7 linked regions of the Homo sapiens genome follow. The protein of the gene in region 1 interacts with the protein of each later gene in a biochemical or structural test. Each region holds a gene or a part of one and is shown in the gene's direction. Other genes may lie near its edges.

Region 1 (3,500 bases):
CTTCACAGCTGGACCTCTGGCCACTGGCTGAGAGAACCACTGCTCTCCTGGCCTCCTGCATTGGAACACTTGGCTGTGAAATTAATCTGCAACCTGCAAAAGGCTCTGCCCACAGAAGGGACCTGGACACCATGTATGTTCCAAAGATCCGTGTCCATCCTCCAGGCACAGGCCACAGTCTGACTCTGAGACCAGCTGCCTTCTAGGCTAAAGGAGGGTGCTCTGGGCATTGGCTCAGAACAGGCTGCTGCTGAATGCAGTGGGAAGGGAGAAAGGGATGAAAAGGTCTTCTGAAATGCCCACCCATTTCTTGCATTTGATTCAGAACCCAGTGGGCAGTGGGTTCTTGGAATGGGAATCTTTTTGGTGCCCCCTGTCTTCTGACCCAGAGCGTTAGGAGGGAAGGGAAGGGGTGTTGGGCCCCTTCCCAGGGTCAGGGCTTGTAGCACCTCAGCTGGGAAGCAGTGTGAGCATGATGATATAACAGGAACCAACTCGTTCTTAGCACTTTCTGTGTCTACTTCAATTGTGCTTTACATCTGTTACCTCAAAGTTGCTGCTGTATTCCTCAGCACTTGGAACATGCTGGGCATTCAGGACATTCTTAGTAAATATTTACTGGATTAATTTAACCATCGAGGCTGGGCACGGTGGCTCACACATGTAATCCCAGCACTTTGGGAGGCCGAGGCGGGTGGATCACCCGAGGTCTGGAGTTTGAGACCAGCCTGGCCAACATGGTGAAACCCTGTCTCTACTAAAAATACAAAAATTAGCCAGACGTGGTGGTGCGCACCTGTATCCCAGCTACTCAGGAGGCTGAGGCACTAGAATTGCTTGAATCCAGGAGGCGGAGATTGCAGTGAGCCTAAGCGACAGGGCAAGACTGTCTCAAAAAAAATAAATAAATAAATAAATAAACCGTCACAGCAACCTCAAAATTAGATATATAAACTCTCCCCACTTTTTTTTTTTTTTTTTTTTGAGATGGAGTCTCACTCTGTTGCCCAGGCTGGAGTGCAATGGTATGATCTTGGCTCACCGCAACCTCCGCTTCCCAAGCTCAAGTGATTCTCCTGCCTCAGCCTCCCAAGTAGCTGGGATTACAGGCGTGTGCGCCACCATGCCCAGCTAATTTTTATATTTTTAGTACAGATGGGGTTTCACCGTGTTGGCCAGGCTGGTCTCGAACTACCTGACCTCAAGTGATCCGCCTGCCTCAGACTCCCAAAGTGCTGGGATTACAGGCGTGAGCCACCGCACCCAGCTAAACTCTCCCCATTTTACAGGTGAGAAAGTGCGCAGAGTCAGTTGCCTAAAGTCCCACAGCTCGGAAGTGGCGGAGCTGGGATTTGCACCTGGGTGTTTCTGACTCCAGATCCCCTTGATGAGAGGCTGGATGGGGCCTGGGATGCCCCTGGGGATCCAGTGTAAACCCTGAGAATGTGCCTCAGCTGTGGGGGCCCTCAGCATTCCAGAGGTAGTCATCAGACCCTAGAACCCTATGGGACTGTGCACAGATCGTTCCCTTCTGGGGCCTCAGTTTTCCCATCAGTCAAACGAGGAGGTTGACCCAGATGATGGTAAATCTTTCTTCCAGCCCTAAAACAATTTCAGGATTCCAAGCCATGCCAGCCCAGATTGGCAGCTGCACAAGCCTTGCTGTGTACTCAGGGATCATGCATATTTAATTTCACAATGAAAGGGTTTTTTTCTTACCCTTTTTCTACACATTACAGAAAGAGGTCAGGATCGATGACCACTAATGGAAAACTTTAACCTGCAATAACAATGAGGAACTTTCTGACAATTAGTGTGGCCCCTTAACGTGCTCAGTTTCTTGAGGAGCTCAGAGGGCTCCTACAGTTCCCACATGCCCATTTTCCTGAGATACTGAGCAGGGAGGGTCGGGGAGGAAGGCCCACTAGGGGCTGTGTGTGGATGCTGTAACCCTTTAGGTCTCTTCCAGTGCTGCGTTTTCAAACCTCATATGCTCTAATTTCAAGAGGAAGCAAGGCTTTGGCCCAGATGAGTGATGGGATCCAGAGGTGAGGGGGGGAATGGACACAGGGACCTACCTCTGGTGGGAGTGGGTGTGAAATTCCCATGCTTGTTGCTTCCAGTGTGGAAGCCCACTTCACATCCCTCCTGAGCCCTCAGGCCCAGATCCTCAGGATAAAGTCTTCCTGAACCTCCAAGCCTTAGCCCCAGAGCCCACCCTGCCCCCGCCCCCTACATCCACCAGATGCTTCCTGGGGTAGCCCACCCCCAGCCTGGTGCAGGAGGCTGAAAATCAAAGTGTACTGCTTTAACCGCATTAAAATCCCCTCCTCTCCTCAATTCAGATCAGGGCTATTTGATGTCTCAGGTGCCTGAAACCTTTTATCTGCCAGAGGTACCAGCTTCTCCGCCCTGTGATGGAGAGGGCTGTCCCTTGGGAGGGTCAGGGGGTCTGAAAGTTCCTGAATGTCAGAGATGAAAAGGACTTTTGGGGGTCACCTGATCCAACTGCTTTATTGTATGGATGGGAACTAAGGTCCAGAGAGGGGAAGGGTTGCACCTAAGGTCCGTACAGATCATTGGTGATGACGCTGAGCCTGGGACCTGGGCTCGCCTTTGTTCCACCACAGGTGCTGGGTCTTTACCATCTCTCTGAAGGCCTGGAGAGACCCAGCTCCACCTCTGTGGTTCAGGGCTCAGCCTCCAGGTCTGTCTGGGCTATGGGCTGAAAAGGAGCAAAGCCGTCCCAACAAGAAATGGGAATCTTCCTGGGTGGTTTGCTGGACCCCCGAGCTTTTGGCCATACCACTTCTTCATTCTAATCATAGTTTCCTCTTATAATAAAGTGGGGAGAAGCCAAGGGAGAAGTTTAGTGGCCCCCAGAGGTCCATCCAGCTCTGCCCTTAGCCCCTGAGAGTTCCTACCATGCTTCTTGTGACTGTTTTGCCACATCCTCATTGCTGCTGCTCTGTTACCTTCCCTTCTGAGAAGTGGAAACCCAAGGGCAGTGACACCACCAGCTTCTTCACTTCTGAGGCTGAGCCTCAGTGGTTATAGGGTGGGGCAGGGTTTCCAGTTAGCCTTAGAGGGGTAGGGCTCAGCTTTCTAAACATGTCACAGAAGCCCTGGCCCCTCCTGGCCCAGAGCATTGAAGGTAAAGGTGCAGGTTTGACCTGGTGGACTGTGGGTGGCTCCCATCTCACCTGTATTTGTGTCCTTATCAGTGTCCAACCCAGGGCCTATCTGCTGAATGGATAGTGAAATAATCACTAGATAAATAAATGCATGTAGAGATGCATAAATGGATTGGTGGGTGGGTGGATGGATGGATGGATGGATGGATAAATCGATGGAGACAGACAGATGGCCTCCCCTTTAGTCCAGGGCACAGAGATGGCTTCATGAGTACTCATCCTCCTGAGGGCCCCATGCTTAGAAGGGCCTATGTTTGGTTTAATGCTCTGCAGTCATCATTTTGAAATTGTTAATAATTTTTAACA
Region 2 (2,968 bases), on another chromosome or scaffold:
GAGGCCAAGGTGGGCGGATCACGAGGTCAGGAGATTGAGACCATCCTGGCTAACACGGTAAAAAACTCCGTCTCTACTAAAAATACAAAAAATTAGCCAGGCGTGGTGGCGGGCGCCTGTAGTCCCAGCTACTCGGGAGGCTGAGGCAGGAGAATGGTGTGAACCGGCGAGGCAGAGCTTGCAGTGAGCCGAGATTGCACCACTGCATTCCAGCCTGGGCGACAGAGCGAGACTCTGTCTCAAAAAAAAAACAAAAAAAAAGAGTTCGAGACCAGCTTGGCCAACATAGTGAAACTCTGTTTCTACTAAAAATACAAAAATTAGCCGGGCCTGGTGGCAGACGCCTGTAATACCAACTACTTGGGAGGCTGAGGCAGGAGAATCGCTTGAACCTGGGAGGTGGAGTTTGCAGTGAACCGAGATCGCACCATTGCACTCCAGCCTGGGCGACAAGAGTGAAACTCCTTCTCAAAAAAATTTAAAAATTCTTTCCTTGCATTACTAAAAAAGATAAATAGCTTAACATAGTTTTTAAAAAATTAATTTACACAGATATCTGAGATTTACTGAAGCCCTTAAATCTTAGCATGTAAAATTTAATAAAATCAACTTTGCCTAGTAATTCTGATTTTATCCAGTAAAATTACTTGTTTAATTTTGTCTTTAATACAGTTGACACATTACTTTCTTAAAAGATTTGAGTGAAGTTGCAAGTTTTGGGGTTTATTTTTGAGACAGAGTTTACTCTTTTTGCCCAGGCTGAGTGCAATGGGATGATCTCAGCTCACTGCAACCTCCGCCTCCCAGGTTCAAGTGATTCTCCAGCCTCAGCCTCCCAAGTAGCTGGGATTACAGGCATGCGCCATCACATCCAGCTAATTTTTGTATTTTTAGTAGAGACAGGATTTCACCATGTTGGCCAGTCTGATCTTGAACTCCTGATTTCAGGTGATCCTCCTGCCTTGACCACCCAAAGTGCTGGGATTACAGGCATGAGCCACCATGTCCAGCCAGTTGCAAGTTATTAATATTTAGTTTTGATATTTTGCCCACAGTATAGACCTGATTTCGAATACTTTTTTTTTTTTTTTTTTTCCTGAGACAGAGCTCACTCTGTCACCCAGTCTGGAGTGCAGTGGCACTATCTCAGCTCACTCCAACCTCTGCAGGTTCAAGTGATCCTCCTGCCTCAGCCTCCCGAGGAGCTGGGACCACAGGCATAAGCCACCACGCCTGGCTAATTTTTTGTAGAGACAGTTTCACCATGTTGCCCAGGCTGGTCTCAAACTCCTGAGCTCAAGCAATCCTCTCGCCTGAGATTCCCAAAGTGCTGGGATTACAGGCATGAGCCACTGCACCCAGCAGGTTTTGAATATTCTTTATTGCACATTCATTTAGAAATTCCACCATTCTCACGGTTTAGAAAACCTGTCTGATTCCCCAGCACCTCAGGACCTCCAAGCTGCACATGGACACAGATCTCAGGAGCGTTAGTGCCTCCTAGCTCGGCTTCTGATTGAGTCGGTCGAGGGCCAAGTGCCTGTGGGCTTTGGTTGCCCACTGAAGTTTGACCTCATTTAGAGGATTCTTCTGGCACTGACTTTTCAAGGGACTGAAACAGTTACCCCTACAGATGGTGAAACCTCCTGTAAATCATTTTTTAAGGTCTTTTCTTCCCTTACCAGTCCAAAATGTTTCTAGTAATATCGTGGCATTTTTAGATATGCAGCTTTAGAGTGAAAAAACCCTGAAGTTTCACTGGCTTTGTGCCGTTTTGAGGAACTATGCATGACTGAGTATATAATAAAAGTAGTCATTTAGAAACCTATTTAGATGATCAAAGATAAAGTGGAAGGTTTTGAATATATTACAAAATTTTAGAGATGCTACACTCGTATATATTTATATGTAGATAACAGCTTTATTGAGATATAATTCACTTACCATACAATTCACCCATTTAAAGACTACACTTATTTTTGACAGATCACAGTGCTGATAGCTTAATAATGCAATGGGAACTCTGTATAATGGTGGTATTTGCAGTAAGACTAACACCAGATTCAGTTCTATCTGCCTTTTTCTGTATATTACGTTTTCATGAATAGGACATGATATGACATCCAATTCCATTTAATACTAAATAGTGAAATAAGGTTCTACTTGTATTAAAAGCAGTGTATCAGTACATTTCTACTAGTATGTTATTTAGATTATCCATAATTATAGTTACTATTCAACCATTATTATTCAAACAGCATATCTTACTTTTTTCCTAATTTAAAACATTACCTAGAAAAAACTTAATTGGTAGTTTTTAAAGTTACTCTTTTAATATGCACACCAGACAGATGTTAGAGGTTTTAATATCAATTTAATATAAACTGTGTTTTACCCTGGATTAAACTGAAATGTTTCTTGTTTGTAGGGAGCAGCTGCAGATGACGGCCGATTAAAACGAGGGGATCAGATTTTAGCTGTTAATGGCGAGACCCTGGAAGGTGTTACTCATGAGCAAGCAGTCGCCATTCTAAAACACCAGAGAGGGACTGTAACCTTAACTGTGCTGTCATGAGCCTCGGGCCTGATCACAAGATAGATGTTGTTGTTTAGAATATCCACAGGCAGATGAAGTTCTGAGTGGGTATGAAAAGCACCCTCAACTAAAATGCACCTTCATTCTTATTTCTTGCCCTCTCTGCTCAGGAGAAATGGCTGAGGTTTCATGTGAATTTCCCAAATCAACAATCATCTCCTAATGTTTCCCAGTTCCTGTCACCTGTTGGCGAGGTTGATTTCTAAAACTTAAATGAGTCTACCTGTTTTGCATTTAATTTCAGTGTTCCGATTTCTTTTTTTTTTTTTTTTTTTTTTTTTGAGACGGAGTCTCACTCTGTCACCCAGGCTGGAGTGCAATGGCGCAATCTTGGCTCACTGCAACCTCGGCCTCCCAGGTTGGAGCGATTCT
Region 3 (3,500 bases), on another chromosome or scaffold:
TCTGGGCAAGGGAATTAAACTCATGGGCTCTGGGTCCAAAAGCTGAGAGAGGCTCTGAGGGCAGGTCTGGGAGACTCCAAAGAGCAGGCCGACTGCATCATCTGTCCTCCCAAATGTAAGACAGCTTTGCCCAAGGAAGGATGTGCTGTTGGTGATTACTCAGCACCACCGGCCTGAGGTGGGACTGTCCAGGCAAGATGGGCCATGGCCGCCCTGCTTGCACGGGGGTCTGTGAGCACACAGACCAACTTTGGGGATGTGTCTGGCTGCTTGGGCCCTGCCTGACCTGGGCATAGACGGTTGCTGCGGGCCCTGTTCTGTGGCCCCAAAAGCAGCACATGTTCAGAGTCGGCAGGGGTAAGGTCCAGGCTGTCTGGCTCAGGCAGGCCCTCTGTGGATGGGCCCCTCCCCTACGCAGCCCCAGCACAGGGGAGCCCACGGCGGCGTCCTCAGAATGAGATGCTGGGGGAGCAGGGGGAGGATTGTTTCACCCACTCTTGTCTCCCCGCGTCCCCCGCAGCAGCTCCCCGACGGCTGCAAAGCCCCCAGGCTGGTCTCACAGCTGCACTTCACCAGCTGGCCCGACTTCGGAGTGCCTTTTACCCCCATTGGGATGCTGAAGTTCCTCAAGAAAGTAAAGACGCTCAACCCCGTGCACGCTGGGCCCATCGTGGTCCACTGTAGGTACGCTGTGGGGGCCACGGGGCGGGACCCTCAAGGGCAGGCCACAGTGGGATGACTCATCCTCATGGGCAATGCCAGGGGACCAATATCAGGGTGGGCAGAGGTTTGGGCAGGGCTGATGTGAACACAAATGTCAGTGACTGAGCCAGGCCCCAAGAACCCTACAGGAGAATGTTCAGAGAGCCCCCTCTTCATCCCAGTCGATAAAACCCACCAAAGCCAGGAGGCTCCGGTTGATGGTGGGAATGGAGTTCTGGGCAGGTCTGCTTGGCCGCCCTCACCTCTCCCCGGGAATCCCAAGTCACCTCTGGGAACCAAGATGGAAATGAGAGAAAGCCCCCTGGTTTCTACAGGAAGCCCCCCAACAACACACAAGTCGTTATGGAAGAGCACACCATGCTCAGATGGGCCCCCACAGCAGAGTCTTCCAGAACACGCTGTCCTGGAGACCAGGGTCCGAGGACCAGGCTGCCCCTCGCCAGCTGCCACTTCAGCCTCGGTTTCCTCACCTGTGATGGGAAGGACAGCCTCGGCGGAGCCTGTGACTGGCATCTGGGTGGGCTTTGCACAACATGAAGAATTACTCAAATGTACAGCCAAGGCCACCCCACAACCCCCTGTCCACAGAGAGCCCCACTTGTTCCTGGCAGTGATTGGCCTCACCAGGGTATCACTTTGATTAGATACTAAGTTTCCATCTGTTACAGACAGGTTCATTCTGAGTATCACAGCACTGCCAGGGACAAAAGCCACCTGCACGCAGTGATGCAGGCGCTCTGCACCTGTCATGCAGGTGTTCACGAGAAGCCGTCCAGGAACCCCCGAAGAACGGGCTTTCCCCAAGTCTGAGCAACACTCGCTTGCTGGGGCCAAGCAGAGGCTGGACCCCACCCCACCCACCCTCCAGTGTAGCTCATACTGGGAAGAATTTGCAGGGTCAGATAACAGTAATCTGACAGATGCCACCTCACTTAATGCCCCGAGTCAGATGACTTGGTTTGCCCAGTTTGACAGAGAGGGAGGCTGGATACCAGAGCTGTTGCATAGTTGATCTGAGGTCCCTCTGCTCCCAGGGGGACAGATCTAGGATGCCAATCACACATATAAGAAGAAGACACTGTTTGGTAAGTGAGAAAAATTCTCCACACAGCCTAATCCGAGGCTTACTGCACCAGCTGTTAATGTGCCTCTTAGTAGAGTGTCGGTGGCTATCAGAGGACCGGCCTGAGATCACTTTACTGAGACCACAGCTCCCTCTGGTGGCTGCACTGTAGCTTTGCTCCTAATTAACCAAAAAAACAAAAAGTTGCATCCAGTGACCTGGGTGCGCAGGCCCCTTCGGGGCCTTTCATTTACTTCGGGAGGAGTGTGACTCACGACGCAGCATCTTTCTCTTTCCCCAAAGCGCGGGCGTGGGCCGGACGGGCACCTTCATTGTGATCGATGCCATGATGGCCATGATGCACGCGGAGCAGAAGGTGGATGTGTTTGAATTTGTGTCTCGAATCCGTAATCAGCGCCCTCAGATGGTTCAAACGGATGTGAGTCATGCCTTCCTCTTGCCCTGATCTAGCTTCCCAAAGCAAACCCGATGCCTTCGCCACACAGGTGTGCAGGGCCCTGGCTCTGATGGGCACGTGGCAACCAGCCTGGGCCTGGCCTGGCTTCGCTCCCCATAGCCTTCCCTGCCCACGCGTGGGACCTCAGGGACTCCCTCGTCCTCATCTTTCCCTCGTATCCTCATGTGAGATGGGGCAATCCTACTCCCCCAAACGGTGCATGTACACAGTGCGTGGCGTGCTCACCAATGTGAGGCTCTGCTGCTACCGTTCTCCTTACTCAAGGGCATAAATGGTCGTTATCCGTGGCCGGTACTCTGACTCTTGCCTCACACCTCCTTGTGTTGGCAAAAAGAGAAAAAGAAGAAAGCCGCCCTCTTTGGTCTGCCAAGCTCCACGTGGGCCAAGACTGCAGGGCAGAGTTGAGGGTGTGGGCACCCCTGGCCTCTCTGCAGATGCAGTACACGTTCATCTACCAAGCCTTACTCGAGTACTACCTCTACGGGGACACAGAGCTGGACGTGTCCTCCCTGGAGAAGCACCTGCAGACCATGCACGGCACCACCACCCACTTCGACAAGATCGGGCTGGAGGAGGAGTTCAGGGTGAGTACAGCTGACCCTCCTCTCCATCCTGGTGTAAGCAGCCAAGGGCACGAGGAAAACAGGTGACCATTTAAAGGAAGCCTCTTTCAATCACTTGCCCCTTAACTGACCTCAGAAAAAGCAGGGGCAATACCTGAGCCATGATTTACAAGGGAAGAAGGATCAGGTGGCTTTCAGAGCCTCATAGCAGCCCTACTAGGCACACATTTGTATTTCCCAATGCTAAGGAGGCTTCCTGGGTTGGAGAGTGGTTTCCTTTGAGCAGGCGTCCTTGCCAGCAGCACTAGTCCTCGGCTGAGCAATGTGCTCAGGAGTGTCAGAGGTTTAACTGTGTCATTATATCCTTCTCTGCTGCAGAAATTGACAAATGTCCGGATCATGAAGGAGAACATGAGGACGGGCAACTTGCCGGCAAACATGAAGAAGGCCAGGGTCATCCAGATCATCCCGTGTAAGGCACCCGTGGCGTGGCTTGGGCAGGGCTGGGGCGGGGCTGGTGCCGGAGGCTTTCATCCTGGAGAAGCCATTGACCGCTTACCCCTGTGCACCAGGGTCAAAAGCAGGGTGTCCTCTGGCCTCAGGCTAAGGGCTCCTGTGTGCTGTACCAAATGTCAGGTAGAAAAGACACCTGTGAAGCACCAGCTGACCCAGA
Region 4 (3,968 bases), on another chromosome or scaffold:
CTTCCCCGGTGTCCTCAGAGTAAGTTACTGACTCCTATGGACTTCTAAGACCAGCTCTTTGTAAAATATCTCTGATCTGTGGCACTTACCGCACAGTATTATAATCACTTATTGTTTTAATTAGTCTCCCCACCTTGACTGGGAGCACTTCAAGGCGGACAGAGCCTTGTTGGTCTGTTTATCCCCAGCTATTAGCAAATCCTGAATGAAGGAGTGAATAGACAGGTAAATGGAAGCACAGACCCTGACCCCTGAGGATTCAGAGTTGCCATCCTTCATGCTGCTGGAGCCCAGGGGAAGGCTGAGTTAGAAGAGGGCACAGAAAAACCGAGCAGGTATCTAAGAGAGGTGCACCCCACTGATGCATGTGGAGTGTCTGGGACCCAAGAAAATCCTGGAAGCTGTCACTAGGGCAGGGTGAAGGGTAGCACGAACATGGACTTCATGTTCCCCCCACCGGGCATATCCCAGTGCAGGCTCCAGACGGCAGACGAGGGGCAGCCCCACAGCAGCTTCCTCTCCCTGTTTCATCCCCAGCCTGGCCCCACACCACAGTCCATCAACTCCTGCTCCAGGTGGAAACCTCAGAAACCCACAAAGCTCGGACCTGCTCCAGGTCACCAAGCAGCAGGGCCAGGCACTGGCAATCCAACGAGAAGCCCCACTACATCGCATTCCAGCTCCTGAAGCCATTCCCTGGGTAGGAGAGCCCTGATTGTTATTATCATCTCTCCATTTTACAGATGGGGACAGAGTGGCCTAGAGAGGTGAAGTGTGCCAAAGGTCACACAGCCAGCCAGAGGCAGAGGAGGGACTAACCCCACTTCCCTCCACGGGCAGTGCACCCCAAAGGAGCCAAAATGCTGACAGCAGTGGGGCAAATTCCAGGGGCCCCGGAGCGACCGCCGAGTTGGCCACAGCCACACGATGCATAGGAAACGCTAGGCCCTCTGCACCCTCTCCTGAGGCCCAGTGCCCTGAGGCAGCCCCCTTTAAGGAGCGATCGGCCTTCCAGAAGAGCTCCAGTCTTAATTTTAGCTTGGAGGCCTGCCACAGGAGGCTTTAGAGAGAGGCAGGCTGAAGTTATGTGGGACAGCTGTCAGCCGGCATGCTGGGTGGGGCCTATTTAGCTGGCAGGGACATAAGTCTGGGGACACTGAATTGGTCTCTCTGCCCCAAGTATTTTCAGCCCCAGCCGGCCACACAGCTCGGATCTCCTCCTGTGGATCCCCCCAGCTCTGCGATGATGGCAGAAGAGCACACAGATCTCGAGGCCCAGATCGTCAAGGATATCCACTGCAAGGAGATTGACCTGGTGAACCGAGACCCCAAGAACATTAACGAGGACATAGTCAAGGTAGGCTCTGCAGGCCTGCCTCGGCGGGCGGAGAGTGTCAGGTTTGCGAGACGTGGGCGCTTGGCAGGGGAGGGTATCTGCTGCAGACACAGTTTCCCTGAAAAGAGACTTGTTGCTCTGTTGTCTCTGTATCACCCCCCCAACCCCACCCCACCCCCAAAAAAAGGCTTCTAAATCACCGAAGGATCTTTAGCAAAATCAAGAGCAAAAAATTAGCCTCATCTCCATGACCTAAGTGCTAATCAGGGCAGGAGGAGCGAGTCACAAAGAAAATCCCTCCTTACTACTGTGACGCTCCTGCCACTCACTCCTGGCTCTCACCCTGGGAGGAACAGGAACGGGCGGCCAAGTTGGGCTCCTTTCTGTGCCAAGGGGCATTTCTGCGGTCTCTCCAGTGGGTGCAGGGTTAATCCCCAGAGGGCAGCTTCCAGCAGGGCCGGCAGCCCCTCGAGGTACACTCACTCCCCCAGAGCACTGCCCAATATCTGTCCCCAAGGCCGAGGGCCATGCCCAGCCCTCCCCTAGCTACCCCCTCACCCCAGGTCTAGTGGCCAGGACAGGGCAGACGGCACCCGGGACCCTCGAAGAGAAAGCTCGGGGTTGTCTAGCCCTCAGGGAGTCTCTCAGCGTCTGAAGTTGGGCCTCTTCCCTCGCCTCCTGGTGACACTAGCGGCCCTGCTGCCTCCAGGCCCACACCTTCAATCCAACTTCCAGCCAGTACCCAGAGGGATCTTTCTTTTTTCTTTTTGAGACAGTCTCTCTCTGTCCCCAAGGCTGGAGTGCAGTCGCACACTCACGCCTCACTGCAGCCTCAACCTCCCAGGCTCAAGTGATTCTCCCTCCTCCACCTCCTGATTAGCTGGGACCACAGGCGAGTGCCACCATGCCCAGCTAATTTTTGTATTTTTAGTAGAGACTGGGTTTCATTATGTTGACCAAGCTGGTATCAAACTCTTGGGCTCAAGTGATCCTCCTGCCTCCCAAAGTGCTGGGATTACAGGTGCAAGACTCCACAACTGGCTCAGAGGTACCTTTCTAAAGCAGAATTCCTCCAAGAAGGGTCCCCAGCCACCAGCATCTGAGTCACTGGAGGGGCTGTTAAGAGGCCAGTGTCTGAGGCCTCTCAGATCCTACTGAAAGCATTGGAATCTCAGGCCAGTGCTGTCCAATAGGGATACTGTTACCACAAGGAATTTAAAATTTTCTAGCAGCCACATTTTAAAATGCGAAAGCAAACAGGTGAAATTAATGTTCCTGATATTTCTTACTTAACCCTATATATCTAAAATAGTATTATTTCAACATGTAAGCAATATAAAACAATTATCAATGAGCTATTGTACAGTCTTCAAGTTTGAAATCCAGTGTGCTTCCTATACCCACAGTATATTTCAGTTCAGACCCCACATTTTCATCCGAAATGCTTGTTCTGCATTTAGATTTCATAAAATGTACATGTGAAAATCGATTCGCATGCCTGTACTGTTTCAAACATTCTGCAAAAATTTTTCAATAATGAAATCGGGGTTTACATTTTAATTAAAGTTAAACAAAATCTAGAATTCTTCAGTTTCACTAGCCACATTTCAAGCGCTCAAAGCTCCTGGCCACTGGATCAGACAGGCCTGTATTGCGGTCTTTCAGTGGGGCACCTCCCATGCTGGAGAAGCCTAGCCTCTCCACGTGGCTGTCCAAACCCAACACAATCTGGCCCCAACCTGCTTCTTCTGCCTGGTTGGCTCCCACCTGCCAGCCCACCCACCAGAGTACATTCCTGTGCCATTGCCAGAAGTGCCTGTCCTCTCTTCTCCAGGTGGTGAATGCCTCACTCAGCCTTCAAGGCCCAACTCAAATGCAACCTCCTCCAGAAAGCCTTCCCTGACTCCTCCAGGCAATTAGTTGCTCCCACTTCTGTCCCCCTGCTTCACTCAGGGCATTCCTCCACCACAGCTCTTCTTATACTGGATATTATATTTCTATACATCGTTAGTGATGGAGATAGAGTATACAGTATAGCACAGTGTGAAAGCTGAAATGAGGAAAATTAGGAAACAAATTTCACAAACTGTAAAGCACTATATACATGTAAATAAAATTGTACCTGTAAAATATTATTAGTTATGGTTTCCATCAGTGTCATCTAGCAGGAATAGTCCTGGACTTGACTTTAATAGACTTGATTTCAAATCCAGTCCATTTTACCTAAAAATGATAACACTGGACAAACCAACTAGGTTTTCTGAGACTCAGTTTCCCCTGTAAAGTGGGAATAATATCATTTCCCAATTTACCTCCACCAGGTAAACGAATCTCAAAGCAGCACTGTGCGTTAGAAATATAGCATGAGGATTGAATGAGATGAAGGGTTTGAAAGTGTCTATCACAGTCCCTGGCACCCAGCAAGGATGAGACAGTGTGAGTCAAAGAAGGGTCTCAAAGAGCTTGCAGTCTAGAGGGCAAGAGAGCTAAGCCAGGAGCCTGCGTCATGCCCAGGTAGCCATCTGGTACACCCAGGTGGGCTGCAGGGAGATGGGAAAGAGGATCCCACGGGAGAACATGGTTTCTAAAGGGCACCCACAATGGCTGGTAAGTACAGAGGGAGCCCTTGGAT
Region 5 (3,500 bases), on another chromosome or scaffold:
CCCAGGCCTTAGGAGTCACTGCACAGCCCAACACTATGCCTCCCAAACAAATCCCCTCCTGTACTGGTGGGGGAAGGGGGTGAAGTGAAAGATGGGGTGAGCCTGGTTCCAGCATGCCAATGGCTGGAGCCCATGCCATACTTGATTCTCGGTTCTGGCTGTGGGAACCTCTTCCCTGCTTGAGCACCAGATCCCCAGGATACTGTTAGAGCCTCTTTAATGACAAAGGCTGCCACTGCTGCTAGTTTTCAGGACTGTGCACAGCTTGCAAAGAGCTAGGATCAAGAATGGTGTTCTGTTGTAGGTTCCAAGGTCTCGGGAAGTGCATGGGACACTTCCCAGAGCAGGTACTTCTTACAGTCTCCCAGCCACATCCCAAGGTAGATCTAGGGCTTAGAAAAGTCATGGTGCTCTACCGTGGCCTGAATTATATGATTCTATAGTGGGAAATTGGACCACAGAAAGATACTCACTCACCCTCTCCCATATTGGGAATTTACTCTCTTCTCATTTTCAGCCAGTCCCACAGCCACACAGGCTGACTGTTCTTCTTTTTCTGGTCAGATTTTGGAGTTTCTTCGTGTGTTACTGTTGAACTCCTGTGTTCTCTCTTGGATAATATGTTTGTAAACAAAAAAGTTACTGAGGTGGATCTTAATCAATTAGAGATTTATTTTGCCAAGGTTGAGAACATGCCTGGGAAAAAGAAACACAAATCACAAGGAGATCTGTACCCTGTGCTTTTTTTTAAAAAGGGTTCTGGGAACTTCAATATTTAACAGGGAAAAAGCAAGCAGGAAGAGGAAGAAAGAAAAAAAGTCTGGGTAGGCAATGAGATAAGTGGTCACATTCTTGTGAGGATCTTACTAATGAGCAGAAAAGCTACATTTTACATAAAGTAAACATGAAATTACAGCTTTTTGGGAATGAAAGGAAGGCAGTTTTTTCATGACTAACTACCTAAACTTAGCCCTTTGGTATAGTGAGTTTGGGGTCCCAATATTTGATTTTGCTTTCATATGTGCAAAGTGTGATTGTCTACACACCATTGTCATTCTTCTAAGTGGATGAAGTACCCTGGAAAAGCATCTAGTCAGCCATCTTGAAAAAAAAACCTGTTGTTTCTTTGTAATATTGCTTTATAAATCTGAGAGAACTTGGAACAAATCTAACAAAATAGAAGATACTTCTGGAGAAGTGAGAAAATTGAGAAAAATGCAACTGATGAGTTCTTGATATGTTTAGCTATTATTATTATCATTACTATTATTAAATGATACTTTCCAGTTGGCAAAAAAGTATTCTGGAGGCTATTCTTTCTACTGGGGCATAAGTCAAACTATGACAAAAGAGAAATGCATGCAGAGAGCAAGCCATAGAAGGCAAGTTAGGAAATGATACGAATATTTATCTGTATTTATTTTATTGAATCAATACTGACAACAAAAATTTCCAACATTAAGTACTTCCAAGTATTAGATACTAAGCAAAGAATTAAATATAGTATCTTATTTAATCATCAGATCAATTAATTATTTCCACTTTAGTGATGAGTGAAGGAAGCTATATATATGGTAATCAACTTGACAAGGATTACCTATTAATAAATAAAAGAGAGGAGATTCAAATCAAGACAGAATTCTGAAGCTAGAACTTTTGTTCTTATCACCTTATAACAGCTCCTGCATGTGTGTTAGAGAGAGAATGAGGGTGAGAAAGAGGAATATATACATTCTTATTTAAACCTATGTGGATAATCGTGTAAATACTCCTTATTATACTAATACTTCTAGTCAATGCCAGTCTCTAAGAGTATCTTATTTAGTTTTTCAGTTAGTTATATATATATTATTACTTGCATATAACTTGATAATGACTGCAACCGTAAAGGAACACAATCTTTTGAAATGTTATAGGCAGCAAAGGTAGAAACTCTAGTAAAAGAAATCTAGTGTCAATGATTTTAGATGATTATGTTGAAAGTAGATCTTTAAAATGATTGAGCTATAGTCACTTTTCACTAAATTTCTGATAAAGGAACCCCTGCTTTTTCCAAAGTTTCTCCTCCTCCCACCCATCCACTCTTAGCCATCTAAAGCTTAGAGTCTATGCTGCCCCCTTCTCACTTAACTCTCCAATATCTTTTCCTGGCAGGTGCATTCTATGAATTTCTTAGCAGGATCACCTGGTCTTTTTCAGGCTTGCACCAGGTTGCTCTTGCATTTGTCTTTAAGTCCTTGATGGTACTACAGTCTCTCCCTACAATACAACTTTCCCCCTCCTACTTTCCCTCAAGATGATTTATCGTTCCTTATTCTGCTTCCTTAGCATGTTACCTCTATAGCACTGTCATATGCTCGTTATTTTAACATATTTCTCTCCCTCACTAAAATGAGACCTGGGTGCTCAGATGCCATTTGCAGTGTGAGTCAGTTCATGAGAAGTATATTATAAATAACAACAGGAAATGGCAAGAAGTTTTCAGAGATGCTGAAACTATATTTGCAGAGTTGATTAGAGGATGCTTTGTCTGAGAGAGAGTCACGACTTGGGTAATATAACAGAAGATCTTAAATTGAGTTTTAAAAGAGCAAAGGAGTAAAGTTTTGCTAAGAGAATAGAAAATCTTACATGAAGTCCATTTTAAGATCCTATTGCTACATGTGATTTATGAAAAGGAAAAAATAACAAAATTTTCTGACTAATAATGACATTAGATAATATTTTTTATTATAAGGAAAATGAAGGGCAATTTAATAAACCATAAAATTGGCAAGGTTTCTGGAAACTGCAACGTTTAGTTATAGATTTTTGCCAATTTATCAATTTAAAAAGCTAAGGTAGATGTTGAAATATCTGCAGTATAAAGAGAGGGCATACTAAAATTTTTGCTATAGTAGCTTGTCATTATACTGTGTTCAAGTCCAAAATTTATAACCAGATCAATCATCCCATGTCCTTCCCTAGCTTCAGCTCTCAATGTTTCTGCCTCCTTTTCTTTGAATTTCTGAAATGCCTGACTTGGCCCCAGCCAGTCCCATCCACTCTCTGGAAAGAACACCCTTTTTCTATACTTTATCTTTGATATTCTACTCGTTTTCAGCCACTGTTTAAAATTTACTTCCTAGAGAACATTTCTCTAGCTTTTCAATCTATTGTGATATAATACCTTTTTCTTCCTCTTCTTCTTCTTCTTCTTCTTCTTCTTCTTCGTGTTCCTCTTCCTCTTCTTCTTCCTCCTCTTTTTCTTCCTCTTCTTCTTCTTCCTTCTTCTTCTTCTTCTTTGCCTTCCTCTTCCTCTTCATCTTCCTCTTTTTCTTCTTCTTTTTCTTTTTCTTCTCCTTCTTCTCCTTCTTCTTCTTCTTCTTTCTCTTCCTCTTCCTCCTCCTCCTCCTCTTCTTCTTCTTCTTCTTCTCCTCCTCCTCCTCCTCCTCCTTCTCCCTCTTCTTCTTCCTCTTTTTGAGATGGAGTTTCCCTCTGGTTGCCCACGCTGGAATGCA
Region 6 (3,500 bases), on another chromosome or scaffold:
GACAAGTAAGTCGTAGATTTGGGTTTAGAAACCAGGAACTGTGTCTTTAGATGTTTGCTCTCAGCCATTAACTGCATAGCCTAGTACTATGTATGTTGTTATGAATTGGAATTTATCCATATTGTTTGTTTTTTAATGCTTGATTTAAAAAGACATTTCCATCTACTAACTGCTATATCACATCAACCTAAAAATAGCAATTTTGCTTCTGGAATAGTGATGGGATATCCACAAGTTTCTCTTAATTATATATTTTATGAGGTCTACATGTAGAAAATCTAGTTTCTGAGGCAAATATTGTAGGATTTGCAAATCAACTATGAAAAATATTCCTCAGTCTAACTACAAATGGGAAAATGGGCAAGATCTTAGACATCCAGGTGGCGAGTGCTATAAAGAACCAAATTTGGTGGGAACATGAATGTAAAGTAAGTCCATTATTTTCTGAGGCACTGAGTAATGTAGATGGGAGAAAGACAGGTTTCAAGATTGAGGATGAAGTTGAGGTTTCTAAAGTTTGGAAAGTAAGTGAAGTCCAAGAATGCCATTCTATATTTCGTGGACAGCGTCTGAGAAGTAACCACTACCTGTTGAGAACAAAGAAAACCTATTTGTGGAATGTTGGGAACCCCCTGAATCAACATCAGATAAGGCCAGAGGTTGATGCGATCCTGAAGATACAGGGGGAGCTTTTGGGAAGGCTTTAATTATGCTCTGAAGTCTGGGCCTTTGAGGTTCCTGCCACCATTTGATGAACTCCATTGGAAACGTGGTGGACTGAGAGGTGAGAACTGTGGGATTGCTTATCTCCGAATCCTGACACTTTATCAGTGTCCCAGCCTCCAAATCCAATTTAGTGAAGTTGTTAGTGGAGAAGTGATTGTCTTCTTATGTGCTTATGGTGGGGATCGTTGAGTAATTAGTTAAATTTATCATCAAAATTATGTGTCACAGGTGAATGGGTAATTGAGCTGTATCCTGCAGGGACTCTCAACCCTGGCTGAACTTCAGTAACCTCTAATTTTCACATTAAACATTTTAAACATTACAAATACCTGTGTCCCTTCCCCCAAGATTCTCATTCATTGGGTTAGGAGTGGGTCCTGGGCATAGGTATTTTAAAAAGCACTCCAGGTGATTCTAATGCCCAGCCAAGGTTGAGAATCACTAATCTACTCTAATCTTTTCGTATGGCTGAACTCATTGGATTTTAAACTCTTTTGATGGCAGATACTGTGTCTTAGATATCTACACACCAATCTGTTATTAAGCAACAGAATAAGCACAATACATGTTATTTGTTAATGGGATTATTATTATGAAGTGCAGGGCTTAAAACCTTGCTGTCTAGGGATTCAAACCTTTTAAGTGTCTTTCACTGATTTACAGAAAGTGAATTTATTACACATTGTTTTTCAAAATGAATTTTGACATTTCTGGCCTTTTCTCATTAAAAAAAAACAAACAAATAAAAGCATGGAATTTGTTAGAGTATTTATTGACCTTTTAGTGCCATTAGGAATACTCCTACTCCTACCCTTAAAGAATTCTTCCTATAGAAGGTGCTCAAATAATTGCTTAAAGTGAACATTCATTTTATATAGACAGTTGTCCCTTAGTATCCATAGGGGATTGATTCCAGGACTTCCCTCGGATACCAAAATCTGCAGATGCTCAAGTTCCTGATATAAAATGCTGCAGTGTTTGCATGTAATCTACACACATCCTCCTGTATACTTTAAGTCATCTCTAGATTATTTATAATACCTAATACAATGTAAAAGCTATTTAAACAGTTGTTATACTATACTGTTTAGGGAATAGTGACAAGAAAATTGTGTGTGTGTGTTCAGTACACGTAGTTTTTTTTCTAAATATTTTTGATCTGGGGTTTGGTTGAATCCGCAGATGCGGAATGCATGGATGCGGAGGGCTGACTGTGTGTGTGTGTGTGTGTGTGTGTGTGTGTGTGTGTATTCACTGAGGATGAAGTGAATAAGGGAAAGGCTTGTCTAGTAATGAGGATGTATAGTGTGTTCTGGGGTTGGAATGAATGAGAAATAAGAGCATTGAATTCGTGGAATAGCAGGCATGCTGGAATTTACAAAGGCCAATTTGTGGCTCTGACTGCGTATGTGAGTACACCCTTTTTTGGAAAGGAAAAATTATATTTGATAGGGTTTTCAAGATGAATCTTTTCTGTATTCAGATATTTTGAATAATATGTTTGTTTTACAAGTTGAGGCAGCTTCCCAGAACTGGGAGTAGTCTGATTAGACTAACAATTCCATTCCCTGATTAACTGTGGGATCGGAATCTAAGAGAATTTGTGTAGTTAGAAGAATCTGGTATGATAATGTGTGGGAGTAGCCTGGAGGAATAGGCTAGAACTCTTGAATTTCTAAACTTTTCAGGCTTTGATGCCTTGTTACCTAAATAGATTTTAAGGTTCTTGTATACATAAGCTAGGCCCAGACTGGATTCCTCAAATGCTTTTCAATTGATTGGGCACTGACTTACTTGAGTGCTTTATTTCCTATTCAGACCTCACTTCTTTACAGCATGTGGACAGAACTGACTCGCCATCAGCATTACACATGCTTCCAACTTGGTTTTGGTTCTGCTACTCAGCTTGCATTGAGCAGCTTCTAAGTTTGCAAACAGAGGGCTCGTGGGGCCTGCTGTGACCCACAGACATATTTTTGTAGGTCTGCTCAGTGTTATATTTTGACTTAGTTGTCAGCATTTAAATATTTTGAGATTTCATGCAAAACTCCAGATTCCTATCTTCTTTGGGGGAAAAGCAAATTGGAAGCTCTGACAATGCTGGGCTTTACTTTCCCACATAGCAACCATCAGTTGGAGCTGAGACACCTCTGCTCTCTTTAGAAAGAATTATTAATGCTTCAGTCTCCATTATTGCTTCCCTAACAGTGAGGATAAGTTATTGTCATCATGCTTGACTGTTTTTACTCTGTGCTTATTTTCTCACTTATGGCCTTAATTCATGGTTGCTATTTGGCCTGCTGGTGGGCATTTGAGTTTGTGCTCCTGGATCTTCTCTCCCCTCCCTCCTCTTTCTCTTTCTCTCCCTCTCACACACACATCCCCACACACCCTCTGTGTATAATCCATGCACATAGGGTTTGCTGAACCGGGTTTGGCTGGTTATCTGAGCTGAGTTAATTGCCCTGTGCGCGATTGGGAGCCACAGCCCTGATTTGTAGCTTGAGGCCCTGTGCTTAATCAAGTGGCTTAGTTAACCAGGAATTCATTCCCAGGGTATTCTGTGCTACAGATTCCCTTTGAAGAAGTTGGGCAAATGGTAATGTTGTCAGATTTTTGTGAGACTATTTTATGAGTGGACTGTTAAAGACATCTGAGGAGTGTGTTAAACATTCAGAGCTTTGGGCCTCTCTTGGAAAATCTAAAGCAGTGTAGTGCAGTAGAACTTTCTGGGATGAAGAGATGTTCTAGATCTGCATCTTTCAAGAGGGCAG
Region 7 (3,500 bases), on another chromosome or scaffold:
AAATTGCTTTGTCGTGGCTGGTTGTTAATTTGCTTGCAGTTAAAACTGTCACCACGAAGTGGCAGTATAATGTTGTTAAACTGCTCAGTGTAAAGCGGTTATAGTAGAGAAAAAATTACATTATTCACTTTTTATAATTCAGTACCTTATGAACACAAGCTGTGCAACAGTGTTAGGTGGTTATATTATATAATTTTGTGAAGGTAAAAATTCTTCATATTTTTAGTTATGATTTGTGGGATCAGACGATGCAGGACCACAAAGGAGTTAAATCTGTTCCAACCCTTTCATTTGACATATACTCAAATTCAGAGGTTGTCATTTGCGTAAAGTTATATGGATCTGAAAATTTCTGGAACCAGAATTAATATCTTAGTTTCCCCATTCCTGGTTGGTATAATGAATAATTAAAATACTAATCACAGCAGTGGTGATAATAATAATAGCCTAAAATTCACTATGCTCTTCCTGGGTTTCAGGCACAGATTATTTTATTTACTTCTCCAGGCAGCCCACAAGGTCAGTGTTACTGTTGTTCCCGTTTTACAGATGAGGAAACCGAGGCTCAGTGAGTTAAAGTAATGTGTCCAGCATCACCCAGCAGGCAAGCTAAAATTAGACTAATAGCTCAGAGCAGCACTTCTTGTTTTCCTAAGATACCTTATGTGAGTAAAACCCCCAGACTTGAGCCCCAGTTTAGTATGGTGGTAAGAACAAGCCGAGTCTTAGACCCAGGCAGCCCTGCATTTGTGCCTTCCAGGTCATGTACCTTGTGTAAGCTCTTTAACATCTCTGTGTCTGAGTTTCCTCACCTGCAAAATGGGGTGATGATCATGCCTGCCTCCAGAGTAGCATGGAAAGCCCTGGCACACGGTTGGCATTTGTTAATTGGAATTCTTGTTATTGTTGTTGATGTTGTTGTCATCTGTATGGGCTCAGATTTTCCCACGGATCAACTTAGAAACTGCAAGGTACAGTGACTCTGCAGTGCCCAACATGGAGATGCAGAGATGTAAACCAGTGCCCAGAGCATGCAGTGCAGAGCATGGCTCCTGCCTCTGACCCTGTCATTGCAGACCTGGGCAGGCTGCTTTCCCTCCTTGTCCACCCACTTCCTCACTGGGAGACAGTGGGGTTGGACTGGATCACCCAGTATCTTTCCAGACCTAGAGCTGAGTATCTACTCAAGTGTCAGTGATATACATAAAATCAAAGGTCTTCTGCCTCTCATCACCCCAAGAACAGATGACCATCTGATTTTTCCAGTTCATGACTTCTTTGTTGTGTAAGTCAGCTTTAACACTACTTAGTTTTTTTGGCACCTAGCCTCATCTTGGGTAATATCAGTGAAAAGCTGAGTTTGATCGACTAGTTATGCATTTTAACATGTTCACAATTATAAAACCATTAAAAATAAAAGTTGATCACCCATGGACCACCTAATGTCAACTTTATGCCATACATTGGAAAACTCCATAGCATAGATGAGTAAAATCCTCAGAGGGTGACAACCAGGGCCTCATTCCCAATCTCAATTACTGATGCTTCTCTGCTTTTTCTTCTTCTGCCTCTTTTCCACCCTTGCCGGGTGACCCTTTCCAGCCCACAGCGTCTCCTGCCTCTTCAGCCGACATGGCCCCCATCAGCTCGGGGTCTTCTACCTGGACGTCCTCTGGCATCCCATTCTCATTTGTTTCCATGGCAACTGGGATGGGCCCCTCCTCCAGTGGCAGCCAGGCCACAGTGGCCTCGGTGGTCACCAGCACGCTGCTCGCCGGCCTGGGGTTCGGCGGTGGTGGCATCTCCTCTTTCCCCAGCACTGTGTGGCCCACGCGCCTCCCGACGGCCGCCTCAGCCAGCAAGCAGGCGGCTAGGCCAGTCCTAGCCACCACAGAGGCCTTGGCTTCTCCAGGGCCCGATGGTGATTCGTCACCAACCAAGGACGGCGAGGGCACCGAGGAAGGAGAGAAGGATGAGAAAAGCGAGAGTGAGGATGGGGAGCGGGAGCACGAGGAGGATGGAGAGAAGGACTCCGAAAAGAAGGAGAAGAGTGGGGTGACCCACGCTGCCGAGGAGCGGAATCAGACGGAGCCCAGCCCCACACCCTCGTCTCCTAACAGGACTGCCGAGGGAGGGCATCAGACTATACCTGGGCATGAGCAGGATCACACTGCCGTCCCCACAGACCAGACGGGCGGAAGGAGGGATGCCGGCCCAGGCCTGGACCCCGACATGGTCACCTCCACCCAAGTGCCCCCCACCGCCACAGAGGAGCAGTATGCAGGGAGTGATCCCAAGAGGCCCGAAATGCCATCTAAAAAGCCTATGTCCCGCGGGGACCGATTTTCTGAAGACAGCAGATTTATCACTGTTAATCCAGGTAAGTGGTGCAGGTCTTCTTCGAGGGTTCCTGCTCCTGTGAATAGTCGTACCCTTTTTCAAAAAATTGGGAGCAGAAGGTGAAGCTTCAGAAGGTACTTAATATTCTTAGAATCATATATGTCTGTCATAGAAAAGGTGCACACATGTGAAATGTGTATGTGTGTGTCCCTGTTTTACTCCAAAAGCCTACTCTCTTACGCTGGAGTAAGTCTTTCTTTGATATTTGTTTTCTTGCCTCGGAATAACTCCAGGGACTTCAACCAGGCAATGATATACATGAATAAAAAAAGCCATCGATCTTAAGAAGTTTATTTATTAAGATTTCATTCCATATTCATTATATAATGTATCTACAAATGGCTAGTTTGGTGCCAGGGACTGGGCAGGGTGCTGTCCCAGGGGATCCTAGTCCCTGCCTAAAAAGTTTAAAGGGGAAGGCAGACAGATGACAAGACAGTAGCTAGCTGGAGCGCATGCCCAGAAGTTAGGTAGCAGGAACGTTAGAAAGCCAGCAAGCTAGATGGTGGTTAGTCGGCAAGCTAGATGGTTAACTGGCAAGCTGGAAAACTAACTAACTGAAGTTTTCGATTGTGAAATGGTAATAGAGGAAATAAACAGGATGCTGTCCAAGAGAATTATGGAGAGGATAGGGACCTACCTTAATTAAGAAAGGCCACTCTGGAGAAGTGGCTTGTTCATGGAAACCTACAGAATGAAAGGCTTCAGCCTGGGGAGAGCTGGTATTGGCCCATGGTCCTTGCCCAAGAAATACGGCCCTCTCTCCCAGAGCTCCCATTGCTGTGGGAATGAGCCAGTGTATAGACAGTGAGGCCAGGGCATGAGATCCTCATCTCCTGGTGGCAATTTTGTTGCTCTATCATATGCTCAAATCTTAATGAACCATCCTGATAGTTTCTGCAAGGGAGCCATAAGCATGAGGAGTTGTTATTGTTGTGAGGGCTTTTCTTAATAAGAAATTCTTCATTTTGCCAGACTACAAGATGTTTAGCAACAATTTTTTTTGCGTCTAAGCTGTTGTGGAGTTATAAGAGTGCAAAAAAAAAGCAACTGGTAAATATTTATTTGCTTTTGCACTTGTAAACATTAAAATTCATCTA

Evidence for each region.
Region 2: the proteins of PDGFRB (region 1) and PATJ interact in a test that uses a peptide from one of them, tested with the Homo sapiens proteins (one large-scale study listed by IntAct).
Region 3: of the proteins of PDGFRB (region 1) and PTPRE, one has a biochemical effect on the other in vitro, tested with the Homo sapiens proteins (one large-scale study listed by IntAct).
Region 4: the proteins of PDGFRB (region 1) and CAV3 form a complex in vitro, tested with the Homo sapiens proteins (one study listed by BioGRID).
Region 5: the proteins of PDGFRB (region 1) and SNTG1 interact in a test that uses a peptide from one of them, tested with the Homo sapiens proteins (one large-scale study listed by IntAct).
Region 6: the proteins of PDGFRB (region 1) and PARD3B interact in a test that uses a peptide from one of them, tested with the Homo sapiens proteins (one large-scale study listed by IntAct).
Region 7: of the proteins of PDGFRB (region 1) and PTPRG, one has a biochemical effect on the other in vitro, tested with the Homo sapiens proteins (one large-scale study listed by IntAct).

Annotation. Positions count from the first base shown.
Region 1 is NC_000005.10:150,149,346-150,152,845, reverse strand, and holds part of PDGFRB (platelet-derived growth factor receptor beta isoform 1 precursor), read left to right. Parts: exon of another isoform or gene 1-507; intron 508-3,500. UniProt on the Homo sapiens protein: Tyrosine-protein kinase that acts as a cell-surface receptor for homodimeric PDGFB and PDGFD and for heterodimers formed by PDGFA and PDGFB, and plays an essential role in the regulation of embryonic development, cell proliferation, survival, differentiation, chemotaxis and migration.
Region 2 is NC_000001.11:62,158,480-62,161,447, forward strand, and holds part of PATJ (inaD-like protein), read left to right. Parts: intron 1-2,428; coding exon 2,429-2,575; 3' UTR 2,576-2,968.
Region 3 is NC_000010.11:128,067,603-128,071,102, forward strand, and holds part of PTPRE (receptor-type tyrosine-protein phosphatase epsilon isoform 1 precursor), read left to right. Parts: intron 1-520; coding exon 521-684; intron 685-1,037; coding exon of another isoform or gene 1,038-1,260; exon of another isoform or gene 1,261-2,083; intron 2,084-2,089; coding exon 2,090-2,225; intron 2,226-2,698; coding exon 2,699-2,848; intron 2,849-3,205; coding exon 3,206-3,299; intron 3,300-3,500. UniProt on the Homo sapiens protein: Isoform 1 plays a critical role in signaling transduction pathways and phosphoprotein network topology in red blood cells. May play a role in osteoclast formation and function.
Region 4 is NC_000003.12:8,732,634-8,736,601, forward strand, and holds the start of CAV3 (caveolin-3), read left to right. Parts: upstream 1-1,168; 5' UTR 1,169-1,243; coding exon 1,244-1,357; intron 1,358-3,968. UniProt on the Homo sapiens protein: May act as a scaffolding protein within caveolar membranes. Interacts directly with G-protein alpha subunits and can functionally regulate their activity. May also regulate voltage-gated potassium channels.
Region 5 is NC_000008.11:50,698,407-50,701,906, forward strand, and holds part of SNTG1 (gamma-1-syntrophin), read left to right. Parts: intron 1-3,500. UniProt on the Homo sapiens protein: Adapter protein that binds to and probably organizes the subcellular localization of a variety of proteins. May link various receptors to the actin cytoskeleton and the dystrophin glycoprotein complex.
Region 6 is NC_000002.12:204,548,475-204,551,974, forward strand, and holds part of PARD3B (partitioning defective 3 homolog B), read left to right. Parts: intron 1-3,500. UniProt on the Homo sapiens protein: Putative adapter protein involved in asymmetrical cell division and cell polarization processes. May play a role in the formation of epithelial tight junctions.
Region 7 is NC_000003.12:62,201,571-62,205,070, forward strand, and holds part of PTPRG (receptor-type tyrosine-protein phosphatase gamma isoform 1 precursor), read left to right. Parts: intron 1-1,602; coding exon 1,603-2,380; intron 2,381-3,500.